3 separate regions of the Homo sapiens genome follow, and regions 1 and 2 are each linked to region 3. Evidence: fine-mapped expression QTL. A gene starts in region 3. Each other region holds a variant in brackets. All regions are shown on one strand. Distances are between the middles of the regions.

Region 1 (6,117 bases), 85 kb before region 3:
TTCTGATTTGCATCCCTACCTTATCCCACAATTGGCATAGTGACAGCAACAAAAGCAACTGGCACAATTAAAATTTATTAAGCATTTATGTGCTCAGGCCGTATGCCAAGCTCCTATCACATATATCATCCTGTACATATTTAGCCTTTCCATTACTCCTTGGTGCCTAAATATTTCTGCAATTCTGGGTAACCTACTGCTTTATTCAATCTTTCCCTTTCTGGGAGTAAACTGCATTCCACACGTGTAATTCTCTTGTTTACTATCATATCAATCATCTCCCTGGCATAGAGAATAATGCTTAACACATAGTAGGTGTTTATGGAGCACAGAGTAAAATATTTGTTGCATGACTGAAAAACCCCATGTATCCCTTTTAATACTGTGTTTTTGATTATAATACGTTTAAAAATCATAATTACAACATGGGGATGAATCCTTGGCGTTGCCATTCTGAAGGTCAAAACCAGTCTAATATTGGCTATTGCATTTACTTAATTTAGACAATATTGTTGTAAGGCAGTCTCACTGCTATGACTATAAAACACAATCAAAATAACTACATCAGTAATTACAGTATTGAGAAAAGAAGTCATGGAGGACTTTTTCTGGAGAGAGAGTCAAGGAAAGAAGGATTAGAAGCATCCCAGGTTATATTTAACATATTAAGAGGTAACAGTAGCAGGCAGACAATCAGTAGTAGATCTGGAAGATAGTAATCACATTTACAAGAAAACATGATAGGAAAAACCTATGTCTCACCTTCATTTTCTCCCTGTCCTAATAACGGTTCTTAGCCCACAGCCATCCAGGCAGTGAATCCCTTAGGTAGTCTAGGCTCTGCCCTTAACAGAACTTTTTTTTTTTTTTTTGAGATGGATTCTCGCTCTGTCACCCAGGCTGGAGTGCAGTGGTGTGATCTGGGCTCACTGCAACCTCCACCTCCCAGGTTCAAGCAATTCTCTTGCCTCAGCCTCCAAAGTAGATGGGACTACAAGTGCCTGCTACCACGCCTGGCTAATTTTTGTATTTTTAGTAGAGATGGGGTTTCGGCATGTTGGCCAGGCTGGTCTCGAACTCCTGACCTCAAATGATCTGCCCACCTTGGCCTCCTAAAGTGCTGGGATTACAGGCATGAGCCACTGTGCCCGGCCAACAGAACATTTAACCACTAGAAGGATCACATTAGTTTAGGACCTCTAAGAATCACCTATATTAAGATGAGTTCAATGTTACTCTCTTAGATTTTTTCCAAAGACAGCTGTAATAAAAAACCAAAGGAAGCCTGCCTATTTAGCTGCAAAAATTTTGTACAGCAAATTGTCTATTATACCACCCAGTGTTCCTAAATAAAAACCCACATGAGAAATTCTATTCAAGGAAAAACTGTCTCTCCGGATAAACCAAAATGCCTCTTCTTTCTGACAGCATGGTAACTTATATTTCCCTTTTACAATGGGAAACGGAGCTAAAACTGAAGTTCAATTACAGCAATGTTATTGACTTCTATGTTTAGCAAGTCGGTATTTTGTGATTTTCTTTACTTCTAAACTTATCTATATTTTATTGCTTACACTTATCTTTTAAGTTTTCTAGAAAAAAACAATAAAAATAAATGTAATTCATACCCAACTCAATATTATACAACCTTTTCTAACACATCTTATTTGTAAGTTGGGGGCTGACTTGTTGTTAAATTACCATTTTACCTTTGGAGACACAAATTTAGTCAGAAAGCCAAAAGTCAGTGCTTCTTCAAGCTATTGATATTATATTTACCATGTTGGCAATTATTAAGTGCCTATTATAGCTCTTGTTGGCTAGAACAATTTTTTTAAACTTGCTGAATTACTTGAGACTAAATTTAAAACTGCTAAAATTTTTAAAGGGGTCTCAGAGTAGAACAGGGCTCTTTATATGGCTTATTTTATGAAATGTTCTCAGAAGAATATGATTATATGATTTCAAATATAAGAATGCTTTACAATTTTTAAAAAGTATAACTTGAAGTGACAGGGGATGCTGTTATCCAAACTACTATATGCAACGCCCCTTACCTCCACACACATGAGGATAAAATGTTAGCTGTTAACATGTCAGAGGACATATTTCCCTGGCCATTTCTGCATGCTAGAAAGCACTAAACACTCAATAAATAGTTACTCAGCGTCTGGATTCTATTATAGCTTCCATATTATTTATAACTCATAACATATTTTTATATTTTACATTTAAAAAAAAACTTTTGGCTAGCTGGCTAACCTAAACCAGCTTAAACTGACAAGGAAGTTCCAAGTAGTGCAAAAGAAGAAATAGTTTTTAGTAAGCAGATACATTTTAGAGCAATTTTTTTTTTTTGAGACGGAATCTCACTCTGTCTTCCAGGATGGAGTGCAGTGGCACCATCTCAGCTCACTGCAACCTCTGCCTCTCAGGTTCAAGTGATTCTCCTGCCTCAGCCTCTGGAGTAGCTGGGATTACAGGCATGCGCCACCACACCCAGCTAATTTTTTATTTTTAGTAGAAACGGGGTTTCACCATGTTGGCCAGGATGGCCTCGAACTCCTGACCTCAGGTGATCCGCCCACCTCGGCCTCCCAAAGTGCTGGGATTACAGGCATGAGCCACCGCACCCAGCCAATTTTTTTTTTTTT[TA/A]AGGAAAGAAATATGCTGCTTTCAAATGAAAGGCAGCATCTACCCATGCAGATTGAATGATGTGATGAACAATTCATGGTTTTCACTTTCAGATGGGCTCTTAACACCATCTGGCAGACAACTCTTTCATTTGCTTTCATTCTCCCTTTAGCAGCTATTCTAAAATTTTTGTCACTCTCCTTAAGCCACCATCCTAATCACTCCCATGCCCCAAGCAAATATTTGTTGCCCTCAAATCTTAGGGTAGTTAAGTCCACCCTCCATCATATGTCGCTGGATCTGTTTTCTTCCCAACATCCCTGGCACCTTGTCCTAACAACTGGTTCTTCTCTTCCCTCCATCTTCAACCTTTTCTCTCTACTGGCTCCTATGTACCAGCTGAAAAACACACTTTAGTCACTCCCATTCTTTGATGTTGTTGAATTTCTCTTTTCCTTCTCAGTCAAAAAGGCTATTTGTACTTCTCACTTCCTCCCTCCCACCTCTTTCCCTCCTCCATTAACTGTAATCTTAATTCTATTCTCCCTATTGCCTCAGCAAAGGTCACTGATGTCTCTTTAACTGACAAAGTCAAAAGGTGCTTCTTGGTCCGCATCTCAAAGGACTGATGTGTAGCACCTGAGACAGTTAACACTCCCCTCTCCTGGTTTTCCTAATCTCAGTCCTCTGGTTCTTTTATGCTAATCACTTCTGCTAGGTCTGCTCTGCTGAATTAGCATTCCTTTACACAGCAGCTAGACATTTGTTTCTTTTATGGTTCTACCTCCAAACCTACTTCATTTTACACACTCCATCCTTAAGTGGTTCAATCCATTCCTTATTAACCTTATCATTCAATAACAATATTGATGTTTTAACTAAACCTTTACATTCTAAATCTATTGCTCTGATAATATTAGTATTATCATAATTATTATTATTTTGTTGTGTACAGCCCTATATCCAATTTTTGCTTCTCAACAAAAAGAATATCCTATCTACATTTCAAACTTAAAAGGTCCAATCTTCATTCCCAGTTAAACCTGTTTTTCCCCTGAAAATGTCTCATCTCAAACACAATTCAAATGCCAGAGAGAACAGTTCTCCCTCTCACATTCGCTACCTGCCATCCCAGTTCATCAAACCTAACATTCCATCTCCTTAACTTACGTTGTATTGATCTATCTCTATTTCCACTGCCACAGTTTAAAATCCTTGTCCCATTTTCAACTGTACTATTTCAAACATTAAGGAATCTATGCCCTATCTCCTCCTCCTTCAATTTGTCCTCCACACTGCTGCAAGTTTCTCTAATATGCAATTTGTCCTGTTCTGCTCCCCTACTGAAACCCTTAAAAATGACCCTCACCAAAGCCTGCAGGATTGTCTATGCTCCTTAGCATGGCATACAAGGCTTTTCAGATCTGCCTTCCTCATCTGCCTGTGCTCCCTGCCCCCAAGCACCTCACATTGAATACTCTAGCAGCACTGAAGGACCTGTTCCTTGAAGACATCTATAATCTTTTGGTCTTGCTGTTCACTCTTGTCTAGAGTGCCACACATCCCTGCTTTTCTGCTTAGCAATTTTTTTTTTTCAAAGAAACCATGCTTAGCAAATGCCTATTCATCCTTCAAAACCCAACACAGACATAATCTGCTCTGAGAAGCCACCCACACCCTCATATCCTTGGGCAGAAGAAATCGTTCCCCATCCATGCCGCTGCACACAATACACATACTTCTCTCTCACTGTACGCAGCACCTGCTCCAAAGGGATCAGTCACCTTCTTTGAAGATTTAGGTCACCTGGGTCTGGAATGTGTAAATAATCTCATGTTTGTTTCACTATCTGACATAAATGATATTCTTATAGACCCTATTTCCCCTATGTGGTAGATTAGGAGTTGTCTGAATTCTTGGAAATCTAGTATAGGTACTGGAACAAGACTGAAAACAATTCTTCAGTTTAGAGATTAAGAATTTTGGAGTTACATAGATCTGGGCTTAAATTCTAACTCTGCCACTTACAGTCTCCGGGAGCCTGAAATTAAAAAAAAAAAAAAAACAACAAAAAAAAACCCACTCTCATCATGTTTTCCTCTTTCTGAAATGGGAATGATATCTTCCCTGTAGATGCTGTGAGGATATGTTTGATGAATTTATGAACATACTGGTCATGCAACATTTCAAAAGTTATAAATATTTAAGATTAAAGCTAAACTAATGAGCATGGATTAATTTTTCTTTTTCTTTTTTTCTTTTATTCGAGACAGGGTTTTGCCCTGTCTGCCTCCTGGGTTCAAGCAATTCTTGTGTCTCCGCCTCCGGAGTAGCTGGGATTACAGGCACCCGCCACCATGCCTGGCTAATTTTTGTATTTTAAGCAGAGATGAGATATCACCATGTTGGCCAGACTGGTCTTGAACTCCTGGCCTCAGGTGATCAGCCCGCCTCGGCCTCTGAGTGTTGGGATTACAGGCGTGGGCCACCACACGCAGCCAATTAATTTTTCAAAACCTGCTTACATTTACTTGAAAGTAATGTTTTAACAGATGCCTTATATTTTTGTTTCTCTTTTGACTTTGGTTGATAGCTGCCCCATGTTTAAATTTAAGATGGAATCTCGCTCTGTCTCCCAGGCTGGAGGGCAGTGGCCGTCGCCTCAGCTCACTGCAACCTTCACCTCCTGGGTTCAAGCGATTATTCCACGTGATCCCAACTGTGACAAAGACTTAGCAGATGTGACTGAATTACCAAAGTCACCAATGTTGTGGTAATTTGTTACAGTAGTCATTGGAAACTAATACAAGCCTCCGTTAAATAAAATTTATAGAAGTTCATTGGTTTGGACTGAGCTCCTGCACTAGGCTCAACAGACCAAACCAAAATGGAGTTACTCATGCTGAAGTTCACACCACCAAGCCAAAACCAAGTTGTTTATCTGACCTTCCAAGAAATCGGGAGAGGAATGGAGATAACAGCCAAATCCCCAAGCAGGCCAATTTTAGCTGGCATGATAAGGCAGTACCTCCTGCTTTAAACTTTAAAAAAGGTAAGTAACTTTAAAACAACCAAACTGCTTTTTGTTCTCTGTTTCGGCTTTCTTCAGCCCTTTTCTGTCAATAAAACCAACCTCCTCTGCTCAGCTCATCACAACACTCATTCTGTTTTATAGGATGAGGTCTCATCTGATTCTAGAATTGCAAATAAAAGCCAATTAAGATCTTTAAAATAAATTTTTTTTGTGACTAGGTCATTTGATATCTTCTATTGACTTAAAATAGAAATTTATTTTCTTTCAGCTCTAGAGGCCAGAATTCATGCCAAAATCAGTTTTAATGGGCAGATATTAAGGTGTTGAGAGGGATTCCATAGGCCGTAAAGGAGAATAAGTTCATGGTCGCCTCTTCCAGCTTCTGCATGCCTTGGCTTGTGGTCCCATCACTCCATCTCTGCCTCAGGAGTCACGCTGCTCTCTGAAAT
Region 2 (6,117 bases), 240 kb before region 3:
ACCCTGGTTCCAAGATATGCCTACTTGTTCTGCCAACTATCCCTATGTACAGTCCAGAACTAATCCCAGTTTTGATTCACTAAACCAACAGATAAGTCATAAAATTCAAGTAAAAAACTAAAGCACAAATGCAAAGGGAAATGACGTACTTCTTCTAAGACTACACACACATGAAATGTGATCCTTCTGTGAGCTGCGGCTGAGTGGATGGAACTGGCGATGCCGAGGACTCAGGAGATGGGGACAGACTTTTCACTAAAACACACAAAGAAAATGGGAGAAGATAAAAATCTTTAAGACACATTTGGAGAAGTAAATCCTGATGCTGTAATCCCACAAAAATTAGAACATGTTTTGAGAAGGAAGTAATAGATACATTTGGTTCTATTGTGATTTTTTCTTTTTAAATAATTAAAAACAAATTTTTATTAATTGAGATGGGGTCTCACCATGTTGACCAGGCTGGTCTTGAACTCCTGGCATCATGCAATCCTCCCATCTTGGTCTCCCGAAGTGTTGGGATTATGTGCCCAGCCTGTTATTTTCTAATTTGCAATCTAATTATTCAGTATAAAATATTTCCTGACAACTACTTAAAAATTTTTTTTTTTTTGGCTGGGCGTGGTGGCTCATGTCTGTAATCCCACCACTTTGGGAGGCCGAGGCAGGCGGATCATTTGAGGTCAGGAGTTCGAGACCAGCCAGGCCAACATGGTGAAACCCCGACTCTACTAAAAATACAAAAATTAGTCAGACATGGTAGCTCGTGCCTGTAGTCCTAGCTACTTAGGAGGCCGGGGTAGGAGAAATGCTTGAACCCAAGAGCCAGAGGCTGCAATGAGCTGAGATTGTACCACTGTACTCTAGCCTGGGCAAGAGAGCAAGACTTTGTCTCAAACAACAACAACAACAACAAAAAACAAACAAACAAAAAAAATACTTTACATTTTTTTTTTCTGCTTTGAGGTTAATTTTCTGTTGGAACTTTTTTTAGTTCTATGCAGCTAAATACTATGGATGATTTAAATGTTGTGGTTTTAATACTATCATAACACTTTGATCCAGACCTGCTGCATAATAACCAAAACTGGCCAGTGACAATTTTTTTTTTAACAAGTGAGACCTCCTGTGCACACTACCTTATTCATTTATTTAGAGACAGAATTTCGCTCTTTGTTGCCCAGGCTGGAGTGCAGTGGCGTGATCTCGGCTCATCACAACCTCTGCCTCCCAAGTTCAAGCGATTCTCCTGCCTCAGCCTCCTGAGTAGCTGGGATTACAGGCATGGCCACCATGCCTGGCTAATTTTGTATTTTTAGTAGAGACGGGGTTTCTCCATGTTGGTCAGGCTGGTCTCGAACTCCAAACCTCAGGTGATCCACCTGCCTCAGTCTCCCAAAGTGCTGGGATTATAGGCGTGAGCCACTGTGCCTGGCTATTTATTTATTTTTTGAGACAGGGTCTTGCTCTGTTGCTCAGGCTGGAAAGCAGTAATGCAGTCACACAGCTCATTGTAGCCTCAACCTCCTGGGCTCAGGTGATCCTCCTACCTCAGCCTCCTGAGAAGCTGGGTCTATAGTGCCATCCCATCCGGCTAATTTTTTAAAAGCATTATTTTTAGTAGAAACGTTGTCTTGTTACATTGCCTAGGCTGGTCTTGAACTCCTGAGCTCAAGCAATACTCCTGCCTTGGCTTCCGAAAGTGCTGAGATTATAGGCGTGAGCCACTGCACCCAGCTCATACTGCCTTGTAAGTGACAGAGGCAAAGGAAAAGGCAGTGCTTAGTATTTGTTACAAGGGAACATGACTGGTAATATAAATTTATAATTTATTTTAAATAAGTAAATTAAATAAAGTTTATTTTATTTAAATTTATAACATACACGTTATATTTATATAAGATACGGAAGATGTTCTGCCCAGAACCCCATGCTTTTCCTAAGAAGAATGGTCCTGAATACTTGAATTTCATTGTTTCTTACTCTTCTGCAAAAGGGCAGGAGTGGTGGCGGGGTTTTGTAGGAATGGTTTTTTACTTATGGACTACAAGAAGCAAAGCTGGGCCGGGCGCAGTGGCTCATGCCTATAATCCCAGCACTTTGGGAGGCCGAGGCGGGCGGATCACGAGGCCAGGAGATTGAGACCAACCTGGCTAACAGTGAAACCCTATCTCTACTAAAAAAAAAAAAAATACAAAAAATTAGCCAGGCGTGGTGACGGACACCTACAGTCCCAGCTACTCAGGAGGCTGAGGCAGAAGAATGGCATGAACCCAGGAGGCGGAGCTTGCAGTGAGTGGAGATCGCGCCACTGCACTCCAGCCTGGGCAACAGAGCAAGACTCCATCTCAAAAATAAAATAAAATAAAATAAAATAAAAAAGAAGCAAAGCTGGCTGGGCATGGTGGCTCACGCCTGTAATCCTAGCACTTTGGGAAGCTGAGGTGGGTGGATCACCTGAGGTCAGGAGTTCAAGACCAGCCTGGCCAACATGGCGAGACCC[T/C]GCCTCTACAAAAATACAAAAATTAGCTGGGCGTGGTGGTGGGCACCTATAATCCCAGCTACTTGGGAGGCTGAGGCAGGAGAATCGCTTGAACCTGGGAGGTGGAGATTGCAGTGAGCTGAGATCACGCCACATCACTCCAGCCTGGGTGAAAGAGCTTCAAAAAAAAAAAAAAAAAAAAAAAAAGAAGAAGCAAAGCGATAATATGCACTAATTCCCATCCCTGTTCCCAAAAAATCATAAAGAAAAAGAGTAAAAGGGCCGGGCATGGTGGCTTATGCCTGTAATCCCAGCACTTTGGGAGGTTGAGGCGCGCTGATCACTGGAGGTCAGGAGTTCCAGACCAGCCTGGCCAACATAGTAACCCCCATCTGTACTACAAATACAAAAAATTAGCCGGGTGTGGTGGCACACACCTGTAGTCCCAGCTACTAGGGAGGCAGAGGTTGCAGTGAGCCAAGATAGCGCCACTGCACTCCAGCGCTGGCAACAGAGGGAGTACTCTGCCTCCAGGAAAAAAAAAGAAAAGATTTGTGAAGAGTCCAAAAAATATGAGAGAATAGAGCACAGAACAACTTGTTTTTTTTAAAATGCCATGGATAATAATTTTCTACAATTGAAGGAACAGCCAGGTATGGATTATAGCAATGCTGGAGTAAACAAACCCATTCTATTAGTTTAGATATTAAATCCTCCACAGTTCCCAATGTGGCAGGCTTGTGAATACTCTGAGAATCTAGCCCTGAGAACAGATAGATTTTCCAAGTACTGAAAGATTTTCTTTTCTTTTCTGAGAAGGAGTCTCGCTCTGTCACCCAGGCTGGAGTGCAGTGGCACGATCTCGGCTCACTGCAACCTCCGCCTCTGGGGTTCAAGCAATTCTCTGCCTCAGCCTCCTGAGTAGCTGGGATTGGAGGTGGCTGCCACCATGCCCGGCTAATTTTTTGTATTTTTAGTAGAGACGGGGTTTCACTATCTTGGCCAGGCTGGTCTTGAACCCCTGACCTCGTGGTCCACCTGCCTCGGCCTCCCAAAATGCTGGATTACAGGTGTGAGCCACCGCACCCGGCCAAAAGATTTTATTAGAAAAAGTTTACTCTATGTGTTAAAATTGAAAGGAAAAAGCAAAACCAAAGCCAATGTGTTGATCCCTCTGCCAGGGTAGACTCTGGCAGGGGCTGCATCCTCCTGAAGGTACACTTGGGGAGGCAAACGTTGACTCATCTGTAGTCAAGGTACTTAAGCGATTCCCTTCTTAGAATCTCCCCATGGAAAATAAATTTAGAAGTTCAGAGGAAGCACCAGGTAGAAAATTATGAAGTGTATACTACCTACCTGCCATTGTTTGATTTCCTCTAGAAACCTCAGGAGTTGATTCGTAAGAAATAACAGTTTCTTCCTGTTCGTCAACACTGTTCTTTGTATTTTCTTCAGGATGCTCTTCTGGTTTATGATTTGCGGTCTGTGTTTCATCTTGAGGGCTGATGAAAATAGATTGGTATTTAAAAATTTGTCACTATAGAATACAATTAATTTTTCTTTTTTTTGTTATAAAAGATGCCACCACCTATGTTTAACAACGAACATTTTCTTACAATTAATCTTTTCTTTCTTTTGAAAGTTTCAAACAAAAGAATTAGAGCAAATAATAAACCTGTATATTCATTTCAATAATTACTTGGTTTGCCAATCTTGCTTCATCTAAGCCCTAAAATCCTTGCTCCCTAAACCATTTAAAGCAGATTCTACATATGATATTTAATTTGTAAGTACTTCAGAACATATTTTTAATATGTTAATGCCATCAAATATCCAGTCAGTGCTTAAATTTTCCTGGTGCCTCATAATGTCATTTTAGAATTAGAATCAGGATCCAAACAAGGTCCATATATTGCCTGACAAATTCCTTAAAGTCTACTTTAATCCAAAACAAACTGCCCCAGATCCCTTTTATTCTTTGCCATTTATATGTAAAAGAACTTGGTCTATCTGTCCTATATAGTTTATCACATTCTGGATTCTGATGATTGTATCCCTCAGGATTTTCTATAAAGTTATAAGATTTTTTTTTTTTTTTTTGAGACGGAGTCTCACTCTGTCGCCCAGGCTGGAGTGCAGTGGCGCGATCTAGGCTCACTGCAAGCTCACCTCCCAGGTTCTCACCATTCTCCTGCCTCAGCCTCCCGAGTAGCAGGGACTACGGGCGCCTGCCACCACGTCCGGCTTTTTGTATTTTTAGTAGAGACGGGGTTTCACCGTGTTAGCCAGGATGGTCTCGATCTCCTGACCTCTTGATCTGCCCACCTCAGCCTCCCAAAGTGGTGGGATTACAGGCGTGACCTACTGCGCCTGGCCAAAGTTATATGATTTTAAGGCTTATTCAAATTTAGGTTTTGGAGGGGCAAGTAGCACTTCATTAGGTGGGTGTCATGAACTATTGCATTAACAGATTGTTTCTTTTTGTGATGTTAAAAATGATCAGTGTGGCTGAGCGCGGTGGCTCACGCCTGTAATCACAGCACTTTGAGAGGCCAAGGCAGGATCATGAGGTCAGGAGTTCAAGACCAGCCTAGCCAAGATGGTGAAACTCTGTTTCTACTAAAATACAAAAATTAGCCGGGCACAGTGGCAGGCGCCTATAAACCCAGCTACTTGGGAGGCTGAGGCAGGAGAACTGCTTGAATCGGGCGGCGGGGCAGAGGTTGCAGTGAGCCAAGATTGCGCCACTGCACGCCAGCCTGGGCGACAGAGTGAGATCCCGTCTCAAAAAAAAAACAAACATTAGTGAGTTCAGGGGTTATTGGGTTGACCCATTCATATAAAGATCCTTGTCAGATTTTCAGCTGATAGCTTTGGCAGCCACTGAGGAATATTGTTCAAATCCATTATGGCATTAGGGCTAGCAAAGCAATGACACATATATATTTTTTTTTTGAGGCAGATTCTCACTCTGTCGCCCAGGCTGGAGTACAGTGGCGGGATCTCGGCTCACTGAGACCTCCGCCTCCCTGGCTCAAGCAATTCTTGTGCCTCAGTCTCACAAGCAGGTGGGATTACAGGAATGTACCACTATGCCCGGATAATTTTTGTATTTTTAGTAGAGACAGTGTTTCACCATATTATTGGCCAGGCTAGTTTCAAACTCCTGACCTCAATTGATCTGCCCACCTCAGCCTCCCAAACTGCTGGGATTTCAGGCACGAGCCACTGCACCCTGCCACAAAACAATGATACTCTGACTCCCACTTGAAATTCTTCTAAAAATAAGTTTCCTCAAACTATTTGGTTACAATTTGGGAAAAAAACATGATAAATACTTGATCCTTTCCCTTAATGTACCAAGTTTTGGAATTAAAAGTTGATTCTCTAGCATCCTCCAAAATGGCCAACAAGTAATTTTTTTGTTGTTGTATCATTATGAACTCATCAATTTTTAATATACTGTGTTTTAATCTATGCTTCTTAATACAAAAATTCAGCAGAGATATTTTTCTTAGCAGACATTGCCAAATACTTTTCAAATTCAATCTTGCTATTCATTTAAGAAATCAAGGCATTCCTAATAACAGTAAACCACAGCATTTCTGTTTTCTAGTGCCGGTAATATGTTTAAT
Region 3 (6,117 bases):
TTGTTTATCAAATTGTGCCTAGCTTTACATCACTTTTGCTACCTATAAACAGCCCTGGTCAAAATATACATGAACAAGGTTCACTAAAAAAAAAAAAAAAAAAAAGATGTTCACGTAACTCAGATTTTTTTTTGTTTGTTATCTCTCAGCACAGATAATCAAAGATCAAAACTTTAAGTACCACATAGCTAATGACCAATAATCCTCTATTACCCAGGAATATACACAGAAGCACCAAAAAAAAAAAAAAAAAAAGGTAATTGTGGTCATATTCTGATGAAGCTGGACGATTCCAAAAGAAAAAAACGAAGATACAAAATTATTTTTAAAAGTGGCCATAAATGATCTAATTTCCAAATCAATGAATCGATGAATATTCCAGGCAAATAACATTAGAAAAGTAAGAGTGCCATTTTCTTCTCTCAAAATTCTGACACTATACAAAATAAAGAATACAGTCACCATTATATGATAAACTTCAGAAAATCATGATCAAGACTGGACATACAACTATTCAGCTGAGGAGTAATCACAGCATTCTAATTACGAAGGAAAAAAATGAAAGTCAAAAAACTCACTTTATATAGTATCTTGCACCTTCAAAAGTATATGCTTCTTCCCAGCCAGTAGGCAAATCTAAAACAATACATATATTACAATTAGTATTACTTCAATGATAGCAAAATAAGTCTCAATCCATTTTAATTATCCATTTTCATTTATTAGCTGTTTTAATTAAGTAGATTACTAACAAAAAAAGTGTTGAGCTGGCAATACAACAGATATCATTTTTTGAAAAACAGCAATTCAAATTTAGAGCCACCAGAAAAGTAACCATAATATTAGAGATTATCTGACCTGAGCACACACTGTAATATATTAGGGTGGAGAGGAACTATGTTCTGGCACCCAAGAAAGCAAAGGGAAGCCTTCTCATCCCAGGTGGAACACTCATGAATGACTAGCAAAAAAAAAAGCTGGGTATAACAGGCAACGCCTGCCTCTTCTTGGGTATATTGTGTCTATTTAAGACCGTATTTTTCAGCTACACAAATGAATCCATCTAGGAAGTGTCACCAAAAAGAAGGCAGAACTTCCTAACTACTTAATTAATGGAAAAGAAATGACACCGAATACTTCCGTGTGTGTTTCTAAAAATTTGACTAAGAGACGTGAAGTTTCAAGTAGTAAAGTTGGGGATGATTCAGGTGAACAATGGTCATTATGTGCTACATATTATTATTAATGACAAGTTGTTTGGATTTCATCAAAATGCCTCTTGGAAGTAAAAACAACCGATGTGTGTACAAAACCAGAGTCCAAGCAAAGTAAAACCAAACCAGAAAAAAAAAAAAGTGAAATCACATAAAAGAATAAAATTTTTCTGTGGCGTGAATGTTACCAAATCTGTGGGGTTAACTAGGACACTTATTTATATCACTCATAATTCCATAGGATAATTAGTCTAAATAATTTAAATGTCATATCGTCTTTCATGAAATAAATCTATCATTATCCATAAAAGCAAAGAGGCCATCAAAGTTGGAATATGCGTGTAAAACACCAGAAAGGTATATTGAAGCAAAAGCCTGCACCGGGGAATTGAGAAACATGATAGTGTATTAGTCAGAAATGCCTTAAAAATGTAAGCTCATCATGCTTGCTACACCAGCCTTTCCTTTCTTCCTCCACCTTTTTGCAAATTTGGAGACATTAGTCACTTCAGTGAACTCCAGCATTTCACAGAGAGGCAGGTTTGTTCAATATCCTGGCAACTTTAACAGATTCACGGAATGTCAGAGTCCGAGAGAATGTACCCCAGAGGCCAGCTCTGAGGACTGCTGAAACTGGCCTCGCCTTCGACCCAAACTGCTCTCAAGCCTTTCCAATCACCAGGACTAGAGGCAGGCCAGTAAGAGAACACATGTTACATTTCAAAGACAAACAAGTCACGAATGTAAACAAAGAATGATAAAAGAAACCCAGACCAGTACAGAAACTACGAGGAGCCTTTTCCAGCTCCACTCACACTTAGCATTCAAACAAGCTCCCAAAGCCACCCGAGAGAGCCGCTTCCCCACGGACTCCCTCCAAACAGGGCCCGGGTGCCCCCATACGGGACACCCCCTCGCACGCCCACCGCCTCCTGGCAGTCTGTGCAACCTCCGTGCGGCTGGCGGGGACTTTAGATCCGGATCGCCAGCAACTGAGGCTGCGAACGCCTCCTCCGGCTCCGGCTGCTCCTCCCGTGGCAGGAGGGAACGCGCCAAGCGTTTCCCGAGCCGTTCCCTGTCACAGAGAGGATCGCAGCACCCCCGAACTCCTCTCCTCCTCCTCCTCCTCCTTCATCAGCCACCTACCCACAAGTCCCACCTAGGAGGAGGAAGCTGCACGGCAGGAGGCAGCGCTCCTGGGAGGAGGGGGAGGATGTGGTTACGTTATCCCGGCGGGCGATCGGGGTCCGGGGCTGCAGGGAGGGGAGTGGGTAAGGACTGCCTGAAGATTGCTGGGGGGCAAGACGGCAGCTGGGGGTCACCGGGGAGTGAGTAGCGGCCGCGGAGGAAAAACTCAGGACTCCAGGTTTCAGGGAGGGGAGCGTCGCCACTCTAGGGTCGCGAGGGTCGTCTAGGCTGGGATGGGGGGAGAAGGCGCAGGAAGAGGGCGCCGTCTCCAAGTGCTGATGAAAGGCTGAGGAGAAAGAGGCGCCCCGAGACTGGAGAGAACTCCCGGCGGCGGAGTCCCCGTGGCCCCTCTACCTGCGGCCGCTCCCGCCCGGCCTCCGCCCCGCCTCGCCGCCTCCCGGGGCCCGCGGCGCGGGGCAGGTTGCGGGGAGCCGGGCGGCCCGGGCTCTGCCGCCTCCTCCAGGCGGAGCCCAACTCCGTTTGGGCCCGGCGTTACCTGTGCTCTGCCGCCGGTGTCCGGTGACCACCGCCTCGCCGGTGACGGGGTGCAGCCAGGTGGTGCTCTTGGCCTCCTCGCTGCAGGGGTGAGAGAAGGGGCAGACACGGAGCGTGAGAGGGGACGCGGGGGCGAGCCGAGGGGCTGCAGGAGCACAGACCCGGGCTCTCCCCCGTGTCGCCAGCCGCCCGCCTCCTGCCCTCCCGCCCCCGCGGGCCCCCGTGCCGTCCCCGGCTCTTTACTTGATGAAGAAGACTCGGCCGCCCCTGGTGATCCCGTAAGTCCAGGACCGGGGCAGGGAGATCCACTCCAGGTTCAGATCCGCCGCCATGTCTGATCCCTAGCCGCCGCCGCCGCCTTCTCCTGCTGCCGCCGCGGCTGCCGAGGGAGGAGGGAACGAGCGAGCGAAGGGAGCGCGGAGCGAGCGCGCCTCCCCGGCCCGGCGCGCCCCCGCGCGCGCCCTACCCCCTCGGGCGGTGCCCGCCCCGCCGCCCCGGCAGGGTCCGGCCCCCGTCGCCGCCCCTCCGCATCCCGGCGGCCGCCGGCCGGCCGCCCCGCCGCGCGCTCGGGGGATGGGCAAGCGGCGCCGCGCCCCAGACCCCTCCCTCGGGCCCCTGCGGCGCGCCCGCCCCCTCCGCCGCGCGAAGGTTCCGGGATCGATTAAAAAAAAAAAAAAAAAAAAAAAAAAACGCGTCCTGCCCCCAGGGCTTTGCCCGAAGGCTTCCCATCCCAGGGCGCGATCAAAGGGAGCCTAATAATGCCCAAGCCCCTGATTTCTCTCTTTCAAACAACAAAAACACAGCGTCTGAGCTTTGTTTTATAAGAGCTGTTGGAGAGCCAACAGATTTTTCCAATATATTTATCGTTTTAAAATGGAAAGCTGTTTTTATTAAAGCACACGAAAGGCCTTTCCTGTTTGTTTGTTGTGTGCCAGATATCAAAGGTTGGACGTGATACGTGGCCCCATGAAATATGAGTGGATTTAGACTTGACAAAACAAGTTTTTTCTCTTCCTAGGCCCCTTAGGTCATATCTTATAAAATAAAAACTCGTCTTTTTCTGGTACTTGTTTTTAAAGATTCACTTAACATCAGTGTGGATTTTTACTTGCCCTGTCTCCAATAGATTACAATAATAGCTTATTTTATGGAGTCCTTGTGACGGTGTACATTTTTAAATCTTCACAACAACTATATATATATGTGTGTATATATATATATGTGTGTGTGTGTGTGTATATATACACACACACACACAATCTATAAAAAATCCCCATTTTACAGATAGGAAAAATGAAGTTTAAAAACACAGTAGTTTGCCCAGTCATAGTAATAACTGCCAAAGCCTGGATTCAAACTGGCTGTAGGATTTCAAAAGTATATTTGTATAACCTCCTTGCTGTACAAGCCCACTTTGTTTTACTGCGATTCACTTTATTGCTGTTTGCAGATCTTTCACATCTTACAAATTGAAGGTTTGTGGCAACTCTGCATTAAGCAAGTCCTAGCACCGTTTTTCAACAGCATTTGCTCACTACATGTCTCTGTGGCACATTTTGGTAATTCTTGCAATCTTTCAAACTTTTTCATTATTGTACCTGTTATAGTGATCTGTAATCAGTGATCTTTGATGTTACTGTTGAAATTGTTTTGAGGGCACCATGAACTGAGCCCATGTAAGACAGGGACTTAATAAATGTGTGTGTTCTGACTGCTCCACCAACCAGCTGTTCCTCTGTCTCTCTGCTTCATCTTGGGCCTCCATATTCCCTGAAATGAAACACTAATAATTGTCTAATAATAATGGCCTAATATTGAAATTAGGCCAACCAGTAACCCTACAATGCCCTTTAAGTGACCAAGTGAAAGGAAGAGTTGCATGTCCCTTACTTTAAATGAAAAGCTAGAAACGATTAAGCTCAGATGTATCAACAGCCAAGAGAGGCCAAAAGCTCGGCCTTGTGTCAAATAATTAGACAAGTTGGGAATGCAAAGGAAATGTTCTTGAAGGAAATTGAAAATGCTACTCTGGTGAAAACATGAATTATAAGAAAACAAAACAGCCTCATTGCAGATAGGGAGAAAATTTTAGTGGTCTGGGGAGAAGATCAACCTAGCTACAACATTCCCTTTAGCCAAAGCCTAATCCAGAGCAAGGCTCTAACTCTCTTCAATCTTATGAAGGTTGAGAGAGCTGAGGAAGCTGCAGAAGAAAAGGTTGAAGCTATCAGGGATTTAAGGAAAAACACCATCTCCGTAACATAATAGTGCAAGATGAAGCAGCAAATGATGTAGAAGCTGCAGCAAGTTATCCAGAAAATCTAGTCAAGATCATTGAAGGTGGATACACTAAACATATTTTCAATGTAGACAAAACAGCCTACTATTGAAAGAAGATGCCATCTAGGACTTTCACTGCTAGAGAGGAAAAGTCAATGCCTGGCTTCAAAGCTTCAAAGGGCAGGCTGACTTTTTTGTTAGGAGATAATGCAGCTGGTGATTTTAGGTTGAAGCCAATTCTCATTGACCATTCCAAAAATTCTAAGACCCTTAAAAATTATGCTAAATATACTCTTCCTGTGCTCTATAAATGGAACAACAAAGCCTAGATGACAGCACATCTGTCATGGCTGACTGAACATTTTAAGTCTGCTGTTGAGACCTACTGCTCAAAAAAAAAAAAAAAAAAAGAAAAGAAAAAGTGATTCCTTTCAAAATATTTCTGTTCATTGACAGTGTACCTGTTTACCCAAGAGTTCTCCTGGAGACATACAAGAGATTAGTGTTGTTTTCATGTTGGCTAACCCAACATGCATTCCACAGTTCATGGATCAAGGAGTCATTGTGACTTTCAAGTCTTATTATGTAGAAAGTACATTTCATAAGGCTATAGCTGCCAGAGATAGGGGGTCCTTGGATGGATCTGGAAAAAGTAAATTGAAAAAATTCATAATTCTAGATGCCATCAAGGACATTTGTGACTTAAGGAAGGAAGCCAAAAGATCAACATTATCAAGAGTTTGGAAGAAGTTGATTCCAACCCTCATGGATGAGTTTGAGGGGTTCAAGACTTCAGTGGAGGCAGTAACTAGAAATATGGAAATAGCAAGAGAACTAGAATTAGAGATAGAGCCTGAAGATGGGGCTGAAATGCCACAATCTCATGGTAAAATTTGAAGGGATGAGGAGTTGCTTCTTATGGATGAGCAAAGAAAGTGAT

Which allele goes with the higher level. Positions count from the first base shown, and alleles are read on the strand shown. Sizes are in standard deviations (SD) of each study's normalised expression. Not every link is listed here.
As copies of TA replace A in region 1, the expression in monocytes after Pam3CSK4 of the gene that starts at base 3,296 in region 3 goes up (large effect, 0.80 SD a copy in Quach 2016).

The links. PIP is the estimated chance that this variant, and not a neighbour inherited with it, causes the effect. A credible set is the group of variants that fine-mapping cannot tell apart.
Region 1: its variant is the best candidate, but not a certain one, in a credible set for the expression of PLEKHA5 in monocytes after Pam3CSK4 (Quach 2016, PIP 0.73).
Region 2: its variant is the best candidate, but not a certain one, in a credible set for the expression of PLEKHA5 in whole blood (TOPMed, PIP 0.80).

Annotation. Positions count from the first base shown.
Region 1 is chr12:19,211,418-19,217,534 of GRCh38, reverse strand. All of the region lies in intron 3 of PLEKHA5 (pleckstrin homology domain containing A5), which reads right to left. Among named protein-coding and RNA genes, the nearest start is that of PLEKHA5, 85 kb to the right of the region's middle. The variant TA/A (reference allele first, on the strand shown) is at 2,655.
Region 2 is chr12:19,363,831-19,369,947 of GRCh38, reverse strand. PLEKHA5 (pleckstrin homology domain containing A5) reads right to left here. Exons shown (of 32, transcript NM_001256470.2): 30 at 3,839-3,984; 31 at 150-255. The coding sequence ends at 161. Among named protein-coding and RNA genes, the nearest start is that of AEBP2, 73 kb to the left of the region's middle. The variant T/C (reference allele first, on the strand shown) is at 2,504.
Region 3 is chr12:19,126,912-19,133,028 of GRCh38, reverse strand. PLEKHA5 (pleckstrin homology domain containing A5) reads right to left here and starts at 3,296. Exons shown (of 32, transcript NM_001256470.2): 1 at 3,141-3,296; 2 at 2,899-2,978; 3 at 579-636. The coding sequence starts at 3,229.